Regions from separate parts of the Homo sapiens genome. Here region 2 is linked to region 1. A link means that fine-mapping ties the variant in region 1 to the expression of a gene that starts in the linked region. Tissue or cell type: lung. Region 1 holds a variant in brackets; the other region holds the start of a gene. All regions are shown on one strand. Distances are between the middles of the regions.

Evidence for each region. PIP is the estimated chance that this variant, and not a neighbour inherited with it, causes the effect.
Region 2: it holds the start of FAM53B, and the variant in region 1 is fine-mapped to the expression of FAM53B in lung (TOPMed, PIP above 0.99).

The regions. Positions count from the first base shown.
Region 1 is chr10:124,628,486-124,636,587 of GRCh38, forward strand. All of the region lies in intron 4 of FAM53B (family with sequence similarity 53 member B), which reads right to left. Among named protein-coding and RNA genes, the nearest start is that of FAM53B-AS1, 71 kb to the right of the region's middle. RefSeq lists an enhancer at 1,366-2,218. The variant C/T (reference allele first, on the strand shown) is at 3,848.
Region 2 is chr10:124,741,311-124,749,412 of GRCh38, forward strand. It overlaps FAM53B (family with sequence similarity 53 member B), which reads right to left and starts at 3,068. Exons shown (of 5, transcript NM_014661.4): 1 at 2,703-3,068. RefSeq lists enhancers at 1-69, 7,745-7,944 and silencers at 1,947-2,026, 2,117-2,326, 2,647-2,806, 2,857-2,966, 2,987-3,036 and 1 more.

The DNA of each region.
Region 1 (8,102 bases):
TGAGATCCTCCACTGGCCAAGTGGCCTCACTTCCCGTTTCCTCCCCTGGGAAGCAGAACTGCTGTCTCTGGCCAGGCTGCTTCACAGGGCCACTGCAAGGATCCTAAGAGGAAAGCCAGGCTGCTGGTGTCCCACCTGGAGTCCCAAACCCACAGCAGTGCCCACTCTCCACTGCTGTGAGTGTTGGCTCTGACAGTTCATGGCTGCCCCTTCCGGAACTACTCTGGGCTGGGAGATCTAGGATAGGAAGGAGGTTACCCTTTCCCTTTGGGGTCACCCCCAGCCAATGACCAACAGGTGCAGGGACAGGAGCTGTCCCTCCTCTTGGGCGGGATCAAGTCCCACGTGCTAGTCACACTTCGCAGCTCCCAAAGCACCAGGCTGAGAAGCGACTTCAGCTGAGCCCACCTCTTTCCTGGGCCTCTGCAGTTCATGGGCTTCCCTCGCCTCCCTGAAGGTTCTTGCTGGGAGCATCCCTCTCTGTGTCACTGGCACGAGAATCCCCGGCTCAGGCCCCGCTTCTAGAGACCCAATCTAAAGCCACAGGTAAAAGCACCCTGGGTGTTAATGTAGTTATAGGTTATGCACCTGCTTCTTAGTACTACTATTCTTTCTAGAACGGGAATGTCAAGCCATGGTCAGAGACTGGCCACGGGGCCCTGTGGGGAGTCCAGTTCCTGGCCCCAGCCTGCCTGGCATGTGCTGGGGAGGGGTGGTTGTTGGGGACGCCTCTCCTCGGTTAGTCGGTGTCTTAAGTGTAGTGCCCACATGAGGCTTCCTCTGGGCCCCTGCCTGCGCCAAGTCCGTCTCCCAGAGGTGCTCAAGTGCCTCCCTTTTGGGCAAGCGAAGACCACTTCCCTCCTGTGCCACTGCTCCTCATGGCGGGACCAGCTGCGTTTCCTCCTTCCCTTGCTCTCTCCCTCTTTTTAGTCCAGTTTTATGGCGCTCTGTGTTAGAGGTCTTCATGGAGCTACCTCGAGTCCCTCTGAGAAAGGGCCATCAACAAGCCCAACTCACAAGTCACGAGCAGAGCTGGTCCCCAGCCTGGCCTGGCAGCTGCCCTGCTGAAAGCTGCAGGGGCCCCAGGCTCTGGCTGAGTGGACGCATTTCCTCCCCAAACAGACGCTTGCATGAGAACAGAATTCTCCAAGTATCAAGAAAACACCAGGCTATGAGAATGGATGGCCAACAGCCTGGAAATTTTCTAAGTCCCATTTGTGCTGGAAGCTGGCACAGAAACAACCAAGACGGCAAGGCATGTGGTTTCCTAGGCTTTTTAAAAAACTATTTCAGAAAAGAAAAAAAGGCACAAGCATATTTTTGGCCCATCTTTAACCCATCTCTGGTAAATCTGGATTTTGCGTGAAGGCCGTACTCTTTCTCACAGGAAGCTGCTGCCCCTGCCCCTGGGGCCAGAGGGGTCAGGTGGTGGTGGCTTCTTTTCCTCTGAGGCTGCAGGTGCTAGAGATGCCTCGAAGGCTGTGGGCATGGCCAACCTTTCCCTAGGGGCTGACTGCCCAGGCTCTGCAGGGCCCTTCCCCTGGGCATCTGGTCTTCTGCTGCTGCCCAGCCACCTCCTGTGTAGGCCAGGTCAGCTGCTCGCCCAGGGCCGTGTTGGTGCCCAGTCTTAAAAAGGGATAGCATCAGCCAAGCGGGGTGGCTCACACCTGTCATCCCACAACTTTGGGAGGCCAAGGCAGGTGGATTGCTTGAGCCCAGGAGTTTGAGATCAGCCTGGGCAACATGGCAAAACCCCATTTCTACCAAAAAAACTAAAAATTAGCCTGACATAGTGGCGCATGCCTGTGGTCCCCGCTACTCGGGAGGCTGAGGTGGGAGGATCACTGAAGCCCAGGTGGCAGAGGTCGCAGTGAGCCGAGATTGCACCACTGTACTCCAGCCTGGGCAACAGGGCAAGACCTGTCTCTCCAAAAAAAGAAAAGCGGGGGACAGCATCATGCCCAGCCCATTTTTGTGAAATGCTTACCACCTTTGGACCCCAAAGAGGCAGCCCTTCTGAGTCTGGACTGCCTCCTTACCCTCAGGAATCAGGGCAACACTGGCAGCAAAACCCAGATGGGGAAGCCAGGTTGCCAGGGCCTGAAAATAGGGAAATCAGGTTGCCAGGAGCGGGAAGGTACTCCAGGGCCCTGGAAGCTCCACTGATTTGGCAATGGATACTCAAGACTCTTCCCAGACCACAGGTTCTAGAAGCAAATGGCCCAGTGGGGGTGGTAAATATCTTCAGGGTGGAAGGCTGGCCCTGGTCAGTTACTAGGAAAGTTCCCACCTTCCTGTGACAGTTTCCTTAGCTCATTTCTGCAGAGGCCAACAAATGTGTACTGAGCGCCTGCCACATGCCAGCCAGACTGTGGTCACCCCGTTCCAGAAGCCAGTACAGCAGGGGACAGACTTTGGCGGCACTGTCTCAGACTGGTCAGACTCACAGGGCAGGCGCCATTTTTCCTTTTCTGTGGACAAGGTATCTTGCCCCAAATCTGACATCCCCTCCAGATCTGGGAGGCCCAGGTGGTGCCAGAGCCAGGTATGCTGTGTGGCGGCCAGTCCAGGCCACGCTGAGTCACTTCGGGAAGGGTGGCACCAGCTTGGGGCTCTCTCCATGGTCTCCACACCCCCAGCCATCCCTTGGCCTTGCTGTCCCCGCTCTGGTGGCTCTCTTGGGGCCCTCATGCTGTGCATCCTGGGGGCACCCCTCCCGCTGGATTCTTTACACAGTGTAGCCTTGCCTACGGTAACTCGAGGCCTAGGACCCAGCTGGGGACAAGGACTCTAAGGAAAATTACCTATGGCCTCCGGAGGCTGAAGGAGTGGGGGAAGGAGGAGTTGATCTTGGGGACAGCCCATCCCCAGCCCAGACACCTAAAATCCCAGGCCTCTGAAGACGGACCTAGGGCCAGCAGGCCCAGCCTACTATCTCCCCTGCCAGACCCAAGGAAGGCAAGCGTGGGCTCCAGCAGGTGCCCTGTGGACTCCACTCATCCCGTGGGCTATCAGCAACAGAGGGTTACTCATAACGGAGCCCTAGAAAGTCACTCCGTTGGCCTGGGGAGTTGTCAAGTTCACCAGAGTGGTGCTCATCGGGCCAAACCCGCCACGCAGGCCAGAGCCCGGCCACCACTCTCGGGCTGGCCTTTCCCAAGGCCCCTCTTCCTCAGGCTCTGCTTCCTGGGCCCTCCGCCCTTGCTGCTCCCACTCAGGCTCTGACTCCTTCTATAGCAAACCTCTTTCAGCCACATAAACCCCCTCTGCACCAGCCCTGGGTCAGCACCATCCTGACGGCCCCGCCCTGTCTCCCTCTTCACTGGCAGATTCCTTCTCTCCCACCAAAACCCGCCTCTGCAGCAGCCACTCCGGAAGCAGGCCCAAGCTCCTGTGTGTACCCCATTTCCTGCCAAGCGTGCAGGGAACCCTGACCCCACATGCCACGGCCTGGTTCACAGTGGGTGCATCGTGCAGCCTGGGGGCAGAGGGTAGGTAGGAAGGAAGGGCCCACCCGGTCGGCCCTCCCAACTGGGCCTCTGTTTGCACAGCCCTGGGGTCCTGAGGCCTACACCCCAGGATGCCGTGGGTAAGAACAGACCTTGGAGGCCCAGAGCCACGCGTGTCCTCTGAATGGTGGCCAACCCAGGGGCCCCTCTCCGAGGGCACCCCACAGGCCACACGGTGGCGACGTTTCTGCACCAGGCCCCAGATGGCAGATGGCCTGCCCGAACACAGAAGGTGTGGGAGCTGACGCCAAAGGGCCTCCCGGTGCTCTCACAATTGGAAAACAAACATTTTGTTTCTGTGGTGTACATTCCAGCCAGCACACACTCAGGACAGGACT[C/T]GTGAAACCACCTCGCTCGCAGCTTGGCGTGAAGAGAATTCTTTGCCTAACAAAAGTCAAGGGACCTTTCCAAAGCACACAGGGTTCTGGCGGGGGGCCGAGGCTAATGTACTGCCTGCGCCCACAGACCTTGAATAGAGTCGACCAGCAGGGCTCACAGTTTTGGGGGTGGCTTCTGAGCAGGACTAGCGATGCAGAAGGTATGTCCAAGGCTCTCAGAGGGGCTGGTGGGCACTCGTTCGCATTCAGCTGCCTGGGGCCACATCGGGGTGCTGAAGACAGGACTGCTGAGCACGGCCTCTGGGCTCCACCCCAGCAGCTCACAACTCTGTTCCAGATATTGTCTTCCATGGAGGGCACACTCTTGGAGAAGTGAGCAAATCACCAACTGGTTTAGCCACTCTTGCAGATGAGCAGACAGAGGCCGAGTGAGGAGAAGGGACATGCCCCAGACTGCACAGCTGCGTGATGTGCAATCGCACCCCATCACTCTGGGCTGTGCTCAGGAAAGCATGCAGTCCTCCGGCAGGACGGTGGGGTAGTATGGGCTGGACAGGCCTGGGCTGGAATCCCAGCTCGGGTGTGCCCTGAGGGAACTTGGCAAATCATTAAACTTCTGTGCCTCAGTTTCTCATGTGTACAAGGCTAATAAGAGCCTCAAAGCCTCAGAAGTGTTTGGAGGGATAAATAGAGACCACCAAGGGTGCGATCCCCCCTTCCCACACTCCACCCCACAACTGTGCCTCTGTCTCTCTGTGGACACAGCAAGGCCACAGCAAAGGGGTCTGGGAGCTCTGCTTATATCCAACCACTCTTGCTAACAACAATCTGCTTTCAAGAGCAAGAAGACACGCCAGCAACACAAAAGATAAAATACCCAGGAATGAACTTATAAGAACTGGGAAAATTGATAGAAAAAAAAAAAAAAAACTTTAAAGAACAGAAAAGCAAGACTGAACAAATAGAAATAAATCCTGTGTGAGGGATAGGAAGACTCAACCTCAAAAAGGTGTAAATTCTCCCTAAATTAATTCAGAAGTCTAATATGATCCCAATCTAAAATATCAACAGTACTCCCAATCCCCATGGTCTTAAGACAGACTAATTTTCAAGTTTTTAATGAAAAAATAAACAAGTGAGATTAGTCAGGAAAACTCTGTAAAGAACAGTGGGGAAGCTAACCCTCCTAGACTAGCCCGTACCATATAATATGCCAAAACACATTACTAAGCCTCCATAACTAAAACAGCATATTAGTATGAACGTACATGCATACCTACAGAGACCAATGAAACAGAATGTTCTGAAATAGACCCAGTTTGGTATATGATAAGGGTAGAATCTCAAAGCAGAGGAGAAAAGATGGCATTCTCAACAGATGGTACTGAAACAGACAGGCAGCTACATTAAAGAAAATGCTGGCTCCATACTCACACCACATACAAGATAAACTCAACACAGACCAAAGAGTGTAATATAACCCATCAAAGTACTAGAAGAAAACAGGAGACTTCCTTTATCATCTCGTGAGAAAAAAAGGCCTTTCTAAAACTCAAAATCCAGAGCCATAAAAGAAATAAGTAATAAATTTGATAAAAACATTTACATGTCAAAAAATGCCAAAAGCACTGGTAGGAATGTAAGATGGTACAGTCGTTGCGGAGAACAGTTTGGCAGCTTCTCAAAATGTTCAACACAGAGTTACCATCAGACCCAGCAATTCCATGTCTAAGAAATGAAAACATATGTCTATGTAGAAACTTGTACACAAACATTTACAACAGTGTTATTCAAAATATCCAAAAAGTAGAAACAGCCCAAATGTCTATCAACTGGTGAATGGACACATAAAATGTGGTCTAGCTGTACAACAGAATATTATTTGGCCATAAAAAGAAAGGAGATACTGATACATGCTACGGTGTGGATGACCCTTGAAAGCATGACGCTAAGTGAAGGAAGCCAGACGCAAAAGGCCACATATTTCATGGATCCATTGATATGAAATGTCCAGAATAGGGAAACCCACTGATACGGTTTGGCTGTGTCCCCACCCAAATCTCATCTTGAATTGTAGTTCCCATAATCCCCACGTTTCGTGGGAGGGACGCAGTGGAAGGTAACTGAATCATGGGGGCAGTTACCTTCATGCTACTCTTGTGATAGTTAGTTCTCACGAGAGCTGATGGTTTTATAAGGGGCTTTGTTCAGCACTTCTCTCACCTGCCGCCATGTGAAGAAGGATGTGTTTGCTTCCCCTTCCGCCATGACTGTAAGTTTCCAGAGGCCTCCCCGGCCATGTGGAACTGTGAGTCAATTAAGACTCTTTCCTTTAAAATTACCCAGTCTCAAGTATTTCCTTATGGCAACGTGAGGACGCACTAATACACCCATGGAGACAGAACACAGTTTTGTGGTTGCCAGTGGCTGGGAGTGGTGGTGGCTGAAGGGGACGGGGAGTGACTGCTAAGGGGTATGGACTTTCTTTTGAGGTGATAAAAATGTTCTAAAATTGATTGTGGTGATGGCTGTAGAACTCTGTGAATATATTCAAGACCACTAAGTTGTACACCTTAAATGGGTGAACTGTGTGGTATATGAATTATATCTCAATAAAGCTCAAGAATGTCAAAAGCAAAGTCAGAAAACAAAGAACAAATTAGTAATAAATATTTGTAACTCATATCACAGGCAAAAATTAATCTCCCTAATATACAATTGAGAAGAAAACGACCAATGACACAATTATTTTATTTTTTATTTTTATTTTTGTTTTTGGAGACAGAGTCTTGCTCTGTCACCCAGGCTGGAGTGCAGTGGCATGATCTCGGCTCACTGCAACCTCTGCCTCCTGGGTTCAAGCAATTCTCCTGCCTCAGCCTCCTGAGTAGGTGGGAAAACAGGGCCCGCCACCACACCTGGCTAACTTTTTGTATTTTTAGCAGAGACAGGGTTTTACTACATTGGCCAGGCTGGTCTCGAACTCCTGACCTTGTGATCTGCCTCGGCCTCCCAAAGTGCTGGGATTACAGGTGTGAGCCACCACGCTCGGCCGACACAATTATTTTAAAAGGGCAAATGAAAAGAACACAGAAAAGGACATAAAAATAGCCTTTAAATATACAAAAGATGTTCAACTGATTAGAAAAACGCAAACTAAAATGACAGAGAAACCGTTTACCTATCTGGTTGTGAAAATGTCAACTGCTGGACCAGCCTCTACTGAGAGGTGGGGTGGGAAACAAACCACCCTGAACGTGGCCCTCTGAGATGCAGGGAGGAAGGGCTCCTACAGCGTTAACCTGGCGACATCCTCCAAGAGGCCAAAGGCACACGACGTGTGACCAAGCAATCCCAATGGGAACGGACCCTGCAGAAGACGGATCTCCCATGCCCAAAGGGACTCATGCACGTGAAATTCACAGCTGAAGCAGCCCGGAGGAGTCGGCAGGGGACCCCACAAAGTGGGTACATCTGTGCAGTGGAACACCGTGCAGCCAAAAAAAAGGGCATGAGAACACCTCCAGGGTTTACTATTCAAGAGAACAAGATACAGCAAGGTATGTATTGCATGCTATTATCTCCTCTGTTATAATAAGAATTGAAATTCCTATTTGCTTATATTGTAAAAAGGAGCACAAGAAACTAGCGGTCCATCTGAGGGCATGGGAGATGGGAGAGATGGGGCAAGAGTTTACTCTGTATGTTGTTTTAATTTTCGAACACGTGAATGTACTGTCCGAAAATGAAATGCCATGTCTATCTCTGTGTGTGTGTATTTATCTTAAGAGCAGAGCACACACTAAGTTAGAAAAGGCCAAAATCCTATTCACATGATCGCTTGTGTTTTCCAAGGTCGAATTCCCACCCCATCTCCATATTAAAATCTCTCGATGTTTCTCTACCAAAGTTCTTTTCTTTCCTTTTCTCTTTATTGGTAGCAACAAAGCGTATGAATTTTTTTTTTTAACGGCACTTTGCAAAATCTGTGGACAAAAAACCTCTACCAGCCCCAGGTTCCTGCACTTTAATAATCACCAAATTAAATCTGAGTTTCACACAAGGGGGACATGCAAACATCAGGAGGGGCCGACCCCTGAACGGCCAGTGAGCCACCCTGTGCCAGACGCCTGCATGTGGGTGGTTAGCCGGGTGGCTTTTCACATGGCTGGTAGGTGCTTTCACAGAACAACAGGAAGAGGGAGATCCCAGGAAAACACTGTTTTGCTGTACAGAGGTTCAGGTGGCCCCCTGC
Region 2 (8,102 bases), 110 kb after region 1:
TTCCATACAATGCGCAATTTAACTGCAGAAAGTCACGCTGCCCAAATAAAACATCAACTGAACAATCTGAAGGTGGGCCCAGAACTCAGTCTTCAGGGCCCAAGGCATCGAGCGGTGGGTGAGAAGAGTGTGCTTTTTAAAAGAGCTCCGCAGCGTCCCCTGCTGCCAGCTCCTAATATTTAAACACAGCTCTCTCCTCTCTGGCCTCCAAAAGGGGAGGAGAGCAGGCTGGCCCTTCCTGAGCTTCAATCAAGGGTCAGGCGCCTGCTCACTGGACCCGCTTAAAGGAACCCAAGCCCACTAGGCTTCTGTAGAGAGGATGGAGAGGCTAGCGGGGCAGTGAGAGAATATATAAGGGGAAAGAGAAAGACTAAAAGATGGAAACAGAAAGAGCCCAGGAAATAATACCAGGACTTCCCATAAAATGTCAATTAAGCGTAACCACCACGGTGACAATAAGGTATCATAAAGCTCTTTCCAAAAGAACTTTGCGTACTTTCAAAATGCTATGTGCAACATACCCCACGTTGAAAAGAGAAGAGGGAAACTGATTTAAAACATTATGAACCAAGACAGTGGAATGCTCTCTACTTTGTCCTGAGAAGACTGGAACATTCAAGTCCACTTCTGCAGCAGTGAGGTTGCTAGTTTCTATTTAAAAACTTGTCTTTGATATCAAAATGACTGCACATGAATCTCACCTTCTCAGAAGAAAATAGGAAGTCGTTGGGCAACATTATTTGAATTTAAATCGCCTCGTTCTCTGAAGGAACGTTTGGAAGAAAAAAATACAGGCCTTCCCCACGCCTCTCCTTAGCTTTTTAACCTGAAAAAGCGCCTGGAAGCTGGATCGGCAGACTCCCAGGTCGCATGATGGGTGACAGCCAAGTGCAGACACAGAGTCAAGGGCTACCAATCCTGAGCCAAACCTTCTCCCACTGAATGGGACTATCAACTGGGACAAGTAGCTGTTTCTGTAGTCCACAGCTAGAGGCGGGGGAGGGGACCCTGTAGACCTGCAATTCAATATCAAAACTGTAACTGACACAAGTTACTCTTAAATAGATAAATTAAAATGAAACAAAAACCTGGCCTAATAAGGAACAGTGAGTTTCACCTGGTCGGCTGACTCCATTCCTTCCCAAGTCCTCAAACCAGGTGGCATCTTTTAAACGAGTCCAGGATCTGGAGCAAGGAGGAATCTCCCTGCCAGCCGGTGGGGACTGCTGGGAACACATATGCTAGCATGTCATTTGGAAGTCTGCTAATATGTTGTAAGCAGCACAAGACGCTTGCCTGGCTTCCCAGGCCAATAAACAATGCCATTCCAACTCCTGCAGCAGTCAATAGGAAACAGTCCCTTTTCTCCACCATCCAACAATTGAACAAACATTTGTTCCTGTTGAACAACCGTCAGCCTGGCTCCATCTGCACCCGCTCCTGCAAGGCGAGCGCGGCGGCGAAGGCGACGGCACAAATGCCCACCCCAGGATCCCAGACCCGGAATGCAAGCCATTCCGGGGGCCACTTTCCTAACACCACCGAGTCCGGAGATTGTACCGTATGGAAGACTCGGAGTGTGGCCTATAGGAGGCAGAATCCCATTCATCAAACGCTGCAAAGAGCTTTTCTTTGTTCACCATCGTCCTAAGTACAGTACGTGTTAATGAGCCCGGGCGGTCAGATGGAAGGAGCTCGGCTTCAGGGGGCGTCCGAACGCGAGGGACCCGGGCAAACCTGTCCGCGCGGTTCGTCGCTGCTGCGGCGCCCCGGCCCGTACTACAAGCATTGTTCCCCAAGTCCGAAAATGGGGGTGGAGAGCTGGGGGCTGGGGGACAAGGTGGGGGGGCGGGGGGAGCGAGAACACACTTGGGACAACACAAACCGCAAACCCTCCCCGGATTCTGGGTGTCCTCGTTTCTTTCGTCTCTGCCCCAAGAGAAACCCTGAGCGGGGAACCTGACTCCCACGGGCTTGCAAAATCCAAGACTAGCAAAAATGTGACTCGACCAGTGTGCCTGTGCCGGACGGCCCTTCTCGCCATGTGCAAAAGCCACGCCGGCGCGGACGCCCCCACTCCGCAAGCCCCAGCGGTGGCCTCCCCGCGGGCTTCCCCCGCCCGGGACAGAATGCCCCCTCACCCCCATCCTGACCGCCCCGGACAGTCCAGCAGCAGCGGAGCCCGCCGCCTCGCTCCCGCACCCCGGGGGTGGCGGGTGCAAACTTCCGCGAACAAAAGAGTTGTCTGCAAACGATGCGGGAACTTCGGGGCGAATGGGGCCGCCCGGCTCCCGAGACTCCGCGCCTCCTCCGCAGCGGCTAGTCAGGGCTCAAGTTGAGACGCGGAGAGGACACCCCCGGGCGCAGCAGTCCCCGCGCCCGCCCGCCCTGGCCTGGGGAGCGCAGACTTTTCCGCCGCAGCCAGGCTTGTTCTTCCCCATGCCTGTGCTCTGACAAGTCTCACGCCTGCATCAGGGGCGAGACCGAGCGCCCGGAGAAACCGCCCGACCCAACCCAAAGGCGAAACAAGGCAGAAAAAAAGGAAACCAGCAACATTAGGAAAAAAGAAAAAAAAAAGGCAAGCCCATTGCGCACGCGAGCCGGGCTCCCTCCAGCCAGCGGCCGGGACGCACACGGCCCGGACCTCGCTCGGGGCCAGCCCCCCGGCCACCGCCGCCGCCGCCCGGCCCCGGGTCGCTTACTGTGCGCGGCGGGGCGCTCCGGGCGCGGACCCCGCGCCGTCACCGCCAGCGCTCGCCAAGTCGTCCGGGGTGCCCGCCGCGCGTCCGCCGCGCGCACGCTCGCCTGCCGGCGCCGAGCGCTTTGTACGAGCGACTCCCGGGGAGGAGGAAATCGACTTGTCACTTCCTGAAGTGTTTGCAACTCGTCCCTTTAACCGGCACCGGCCAGGCCGCCCGCACCCGCCGCCGCCGCGGAGCCGCCAGACCGCGGCTGCGTGAACTCGGCCCGGCGCTTAGCGGGCGGTGTCGCGGGCCCGGGCGCTAGGCGCGGCGGCGGCGTGCAGGAGGCAGGCGGCGTGCGGCGGCGGCGGCAGGCGAGTGTGCAGTGCGCGCAGCCGCCGATGGGCGGGGAGTGAGGGACTCGCGGCGCGCCGCCGGCGGGGCTAGAGGGCGTCCTGCGGGCTCAGCCGCGCGCCGCTCGCCGCGCTCGCGCCTGCGAGGCCCCGGGACGCGGGAAGTGGCCCCGGGCCTGGGCCGCGCCACCGCGGCTGCCCGGGCCCCGCGCCAGAGGCCCTACGGGCTTCTCTCCCCGCCCCCAGCACGAGCCGGGATGAAAACGCTGGGCCGCATAGGCTTCAGGCGTCCAGCTTCCGGGTTGTTAGATGCCGAGGTTCAAAAGAAACGATCACTTCAGTGGCGTGCAGGACAGCGGGCGGGTGGGGTCGGGGAGGGGGGACCTTAAAGTGTTGTCACACTTTGGGAAAATAAAGCGCAAATTTCCTAACTCGGGGCGCTGTGACTGTGTACTTCAGAAGCCACATCCAAAATACATGCAACTGGCGAAGGAAGGATTTGTGGTTGCTAAGCAGAGGCAGAGCATGTTTAGTTCTGTAACTTAGGATGTTGACTTAAGTTCAGGAATGTAACCCTGATAGAATAAGCAGAGTATTTTCATTGTGCTGCTCACCTGGGGGAGGGGGATTGTTTTCCTTGTGAAGCCCTAGATTTCCCATTACTCCTTCCTACTGGTGTATGTTATTTTATTGACCTTGTATCCAAAAAGCGATTTTTAAAGAGAAGTTTTTTTAAAACTCCCTATGCCTGTTTTGTGTTCTCCTTTGCCAAAAAAACAAAACACCTCATTACTTTACATGGATTGTGTCTGCGCCATTTGAATGGTTCTATTCATAAATAAGGAAACTTTTTCTGTTGCTTCTAGGAACATTTAATTGGTTTTAATCCAATGTTTCAATCCCAGTATCAAACATAAATGAACAATTAACTTCTTGAGCTTTGTGTGCTTGGGAAACTATTATATTTCATGGCTATTGCTGAAATATTTCAGAATATCATCACACCGGACCCATTCTTTTCAGAAAAGCATGAACTGACATCTCCTTTCACACTACAGCTCGCTCCACTGAGTTCTGCTGCATGATTAGAATGGACAGCAATCAGTGGAAAGGATATGAGTCTATTCATTTCAAGTTACATGATGTGGGATAGAGTCAGTTCATCCTAGAAAGCCAAAATGAGCTAACATACAGAATACAGCATACTAAGATATTGATATCCTTACCCATATACGTTGCTTTTTAAAAATGCATTAAGGACCAATCTTGAAAGGAACAAGATCCAAGAACCGATGGTGAACAAAAGAAGGCCCAAGGAATAATCTAAGAATGCTGCTATGCTTAACGAAAAGAGTCAGTGTTTCCCTAAAGCCATCTGATATCACACAATCACCTCAGCCTTTCAGAGCTTTAAGGACAGAGTTTAATTTACTAACGTTTTATTAGGAAGCCTAGAGTGACTCCTGCTGGCAAACATTCAGTTTATTCCTACAATTACTAGTTCATCAGGTCAACTTAAAAAACAAGATGCAGGGTCCCAGGCCTGGAAACAATTATTACAACCATTATTCTTGTTGCTTTCAGGATGATTTGCGTTTCACATTCCAAGGATGGTGGTCATGGCCAGTTCCTCTGCTGTAACACCTCCTTTCCAACCTAAAGCAGCCTGTTTTTCTGGTTCTGAGGCTTTCTTGAGGCTGTCTAGAATATACTTGCTTAAGAAGTTATGCTATTAACCAATAAATAGTTACTTCTCATTTTCTAGATTTGTATCTCCAAAGGCTAAAAAGATATGCATACATTAAGACCTGTGTCACACTTAACCTTCCATACTATAGGTTCTTCCCACATGATATAATAATCCTACAGCTATATTATAAAACATCCTCACTTCTTAGTGCTCAGCTCCATAGTTCTTTACTAAGAAAAAATTCTACCCAAAAGGTTGTTGTTATATTAGAGTTCTGCTCAATTCAGAAGAGTAGCTAAAAATGTAGAACTCTAGATTTAAAGCTATGTAAAAGCTGCAATGGGGTGGGGACATGGAGCTAAACTGTCTATCTTTGTTCAATCCAAAATGGTCAAAACCAGATTTTGCACACAACCAGACACCTAAATGCAAATTCATAGGCCAATTTAGGAATAAATCCATAAATAATCTAAAAACTATTACTTGTAACTTTTCCATTATCACCAACCAACGCTAACCTGATTAAGCCGGAGAACACCCTGGGAAATATAAAATGCAGGGATTACTTGCAGTCTTTTACATCAAGACCAATATATGACGGCCCGGCACAGTGGCTCACGCCTGTAATCCCAGCACTTTAGGAGGTCAAGGCGGGCGGATCACTTGAGGTCAGGAGTTTGAGACTAGCCTGGCCAACATGGTGAAACCTCATCTCTATTAAAAATACAAAAATTAGCCAGGCATGGTGGCAGACACCTGTAATCCCAGCTACTCAGGAGTATGAGGCAGGAGAATCGCTTGAACCTGAGAGGCAGAGGTTGCAGTGAGCCAAGATCGCACCACTGCACTCCAGCCTGGGTGACAGAAAAAGACTCCATCTCAAAAAACAAACAAACAAACAAACAAAAAATATATGAAAGCCAGGGATAAAACACAGCAATCCTAGTTCTCCCAAAGGAGGACTACCAAATAGAGGCACACTTGTGTGTAAGGTGTGCAACACATTTCCACTCAAAACTGCCTGGGAGATAGAAATTGAGTATCATTCTATATTAGAGAGCTCCCCTATTACAAGTTTAAAGCTCTTAAGCAACAGGATGACAATAAGGGTGTGTTTTATTAAGGGTGTAACCTACTATAACTTGTATCAACAAGCTAATAAAAGTATTCACCTAAGCACATTTGTGCAGACGAGGGTAAAGGTTGGGTTTTGATATGCACTAAGGAGTGTCTTAGGTAGTTAGTGGGTGTTTTATTTTTATGCCTTTAGAACCAGATAAATGTGACGTTCAAACAAAGAGCTGAGCTTTGAGGCTTGAACAAGTACCAGCAAATGTTCAGTTTTTCCCATCAAATCTATCTGTAGGTATGGTTGTAAAAAGAGCTTACCACTAAAAAATTATAAACTGGTTTGAGAGAATAACATACTATCCTTTTTAGACTAACAAGTGAACTAAACAAACGCCAAACGTTATACACTGGATCCAACAGCAGTATGCAGATGCACGTGTATTCACCCCTTTATTTGGCTTCCAAAAGCCACTGCCTCTTTGTCACAACCCTTGTATTAAAAGCCAGTCATTCACATTTCACACTGTTCTTTCTACATTTGAAAAGATCTTTTTAAAAGCAGAACCTTTTTAAAATTGCTTATAATAAATTATGAGAAGACAGACATCACCAAGTCCACCTTAAGTATTTTCAAAAAGATAGGTGACTGGAAATATGTTAGCAAAATATACTTCTTTGGAAAATATAAGAAGTTTCTGGTTACAGATGGAAATAAAAAATCTGAACCTATCATGGGGGCAATTTTCACGTCTTACTCAGAAAAAAAAGTTCTGTAAATTTTCCCACATCTTTGTCCAGCTACAACTAGTAACCCTACCTACATTAGCATGTAGGGATCACATGACACATTAATCCCTCTGTTCTTTCCTGTCTGTTCTTTTTATCCACTGATGAAAATAAGAAATGAATTATAGCTCTGGCTGGAATCATGCATGTGTGTATATACATACATACATACATACATGAATGATACATATATATACACACACACCTTTTTAAAGAGGTATTTGGTTGCTGAGGACAAAATTACTCTTTGATCCAAGAACTAAATAAAACAATTTATTTTCACTGAAAAATAACCTCAGCAATGAGTTTAATAATACCAATCCCACTCCTTTGATACAAAATAAGAGTTGAAAGCAGCTTGAAGAGGAGTGACTATTGAGATCAGCGCATGTGAAGCCACACAGCTTTGTAACTGACTGTCTAGCACCATTGAGGTACGAAAGCATGCCAGCTGGGCCAGCATTGTGCACCACAAAGTATGGGTTGTGAGCCTAAGTCCTGAACACAAACCCTGCTTTCCAAGTTGGCAGGTGCTGAAAACACAGCAAATGTCACGCTTGCAACTCACTGGAGGGAAGAGTTCTGGTAAAGTAAGCTAAAAAGAACAGAGCAACAGTTAAAACTTATTTCAACTTCATATTTTTTTTTCAAAGTTAATAGTAACTACTGGTATTATGTGCTACAAGAAAACACAAGCATGAATAACAAACATTTAAAAGTTTATGTATGGTAAATAAAAAGCTTTAAAAAAGTGTAAGAAAGGCTTTTCACTATCTACAATCAAAGTAAATGGCATAAGTAAAACTTATTAAGCCTATTTTATTATCCTAATACTAAGGTTCAAAAGCATCTGTTTATGATCTTACATGAAGTAGATGCTAATTATTATCATTATAACATGGTGAGTTCCCTAGTTTGCTTCAGTTACCCCACCAAAAACATATCTAAAAACAAATTACAGTATTTTCATATTGCTATATTATAAATTGCATTTAATCTAGAAAATATTTCAACTGTAGACCAGGCTAAATGTTTATGTTACCATCTTTAAATGAAACCATTTCAACTTTTTTTCTTAAATATTCTTTAGTGGAATTCACATTCAGTATTTGAGATATAAGCTCAAAACTTAATTTTTCTCTTGTCAACTATCTGCCATAAGTCACTGCCTCAAGAAAAATCGATTTTGAATTCATCCCTAGTGATATGCTCAAAGCTACTGCTCTCCTGCCTTTCCCCCTAAAAATGAAACTGAGTAAATTTCATTTTCATTAGGTAGAAAGGAAACTAAAACTAGATACAGTTGGTGATTTCACAGAGCTTAAAAACCCAATCTAAAGGCTGAATCCTTTGGATTTAAAATGTCAAGAAAAGAAATCAGCCTCTAGTTCTAAAAGGCAGAACATTCCTGGGAGCAGTACGAAAAGAACATTTAGCCTACATACTAGCCTGTGAATTTCTTAACTCTCCTCAGCAGTTTGTCAATCTATTATATTAACCAAAAGCAAAGATCTTTTGTTT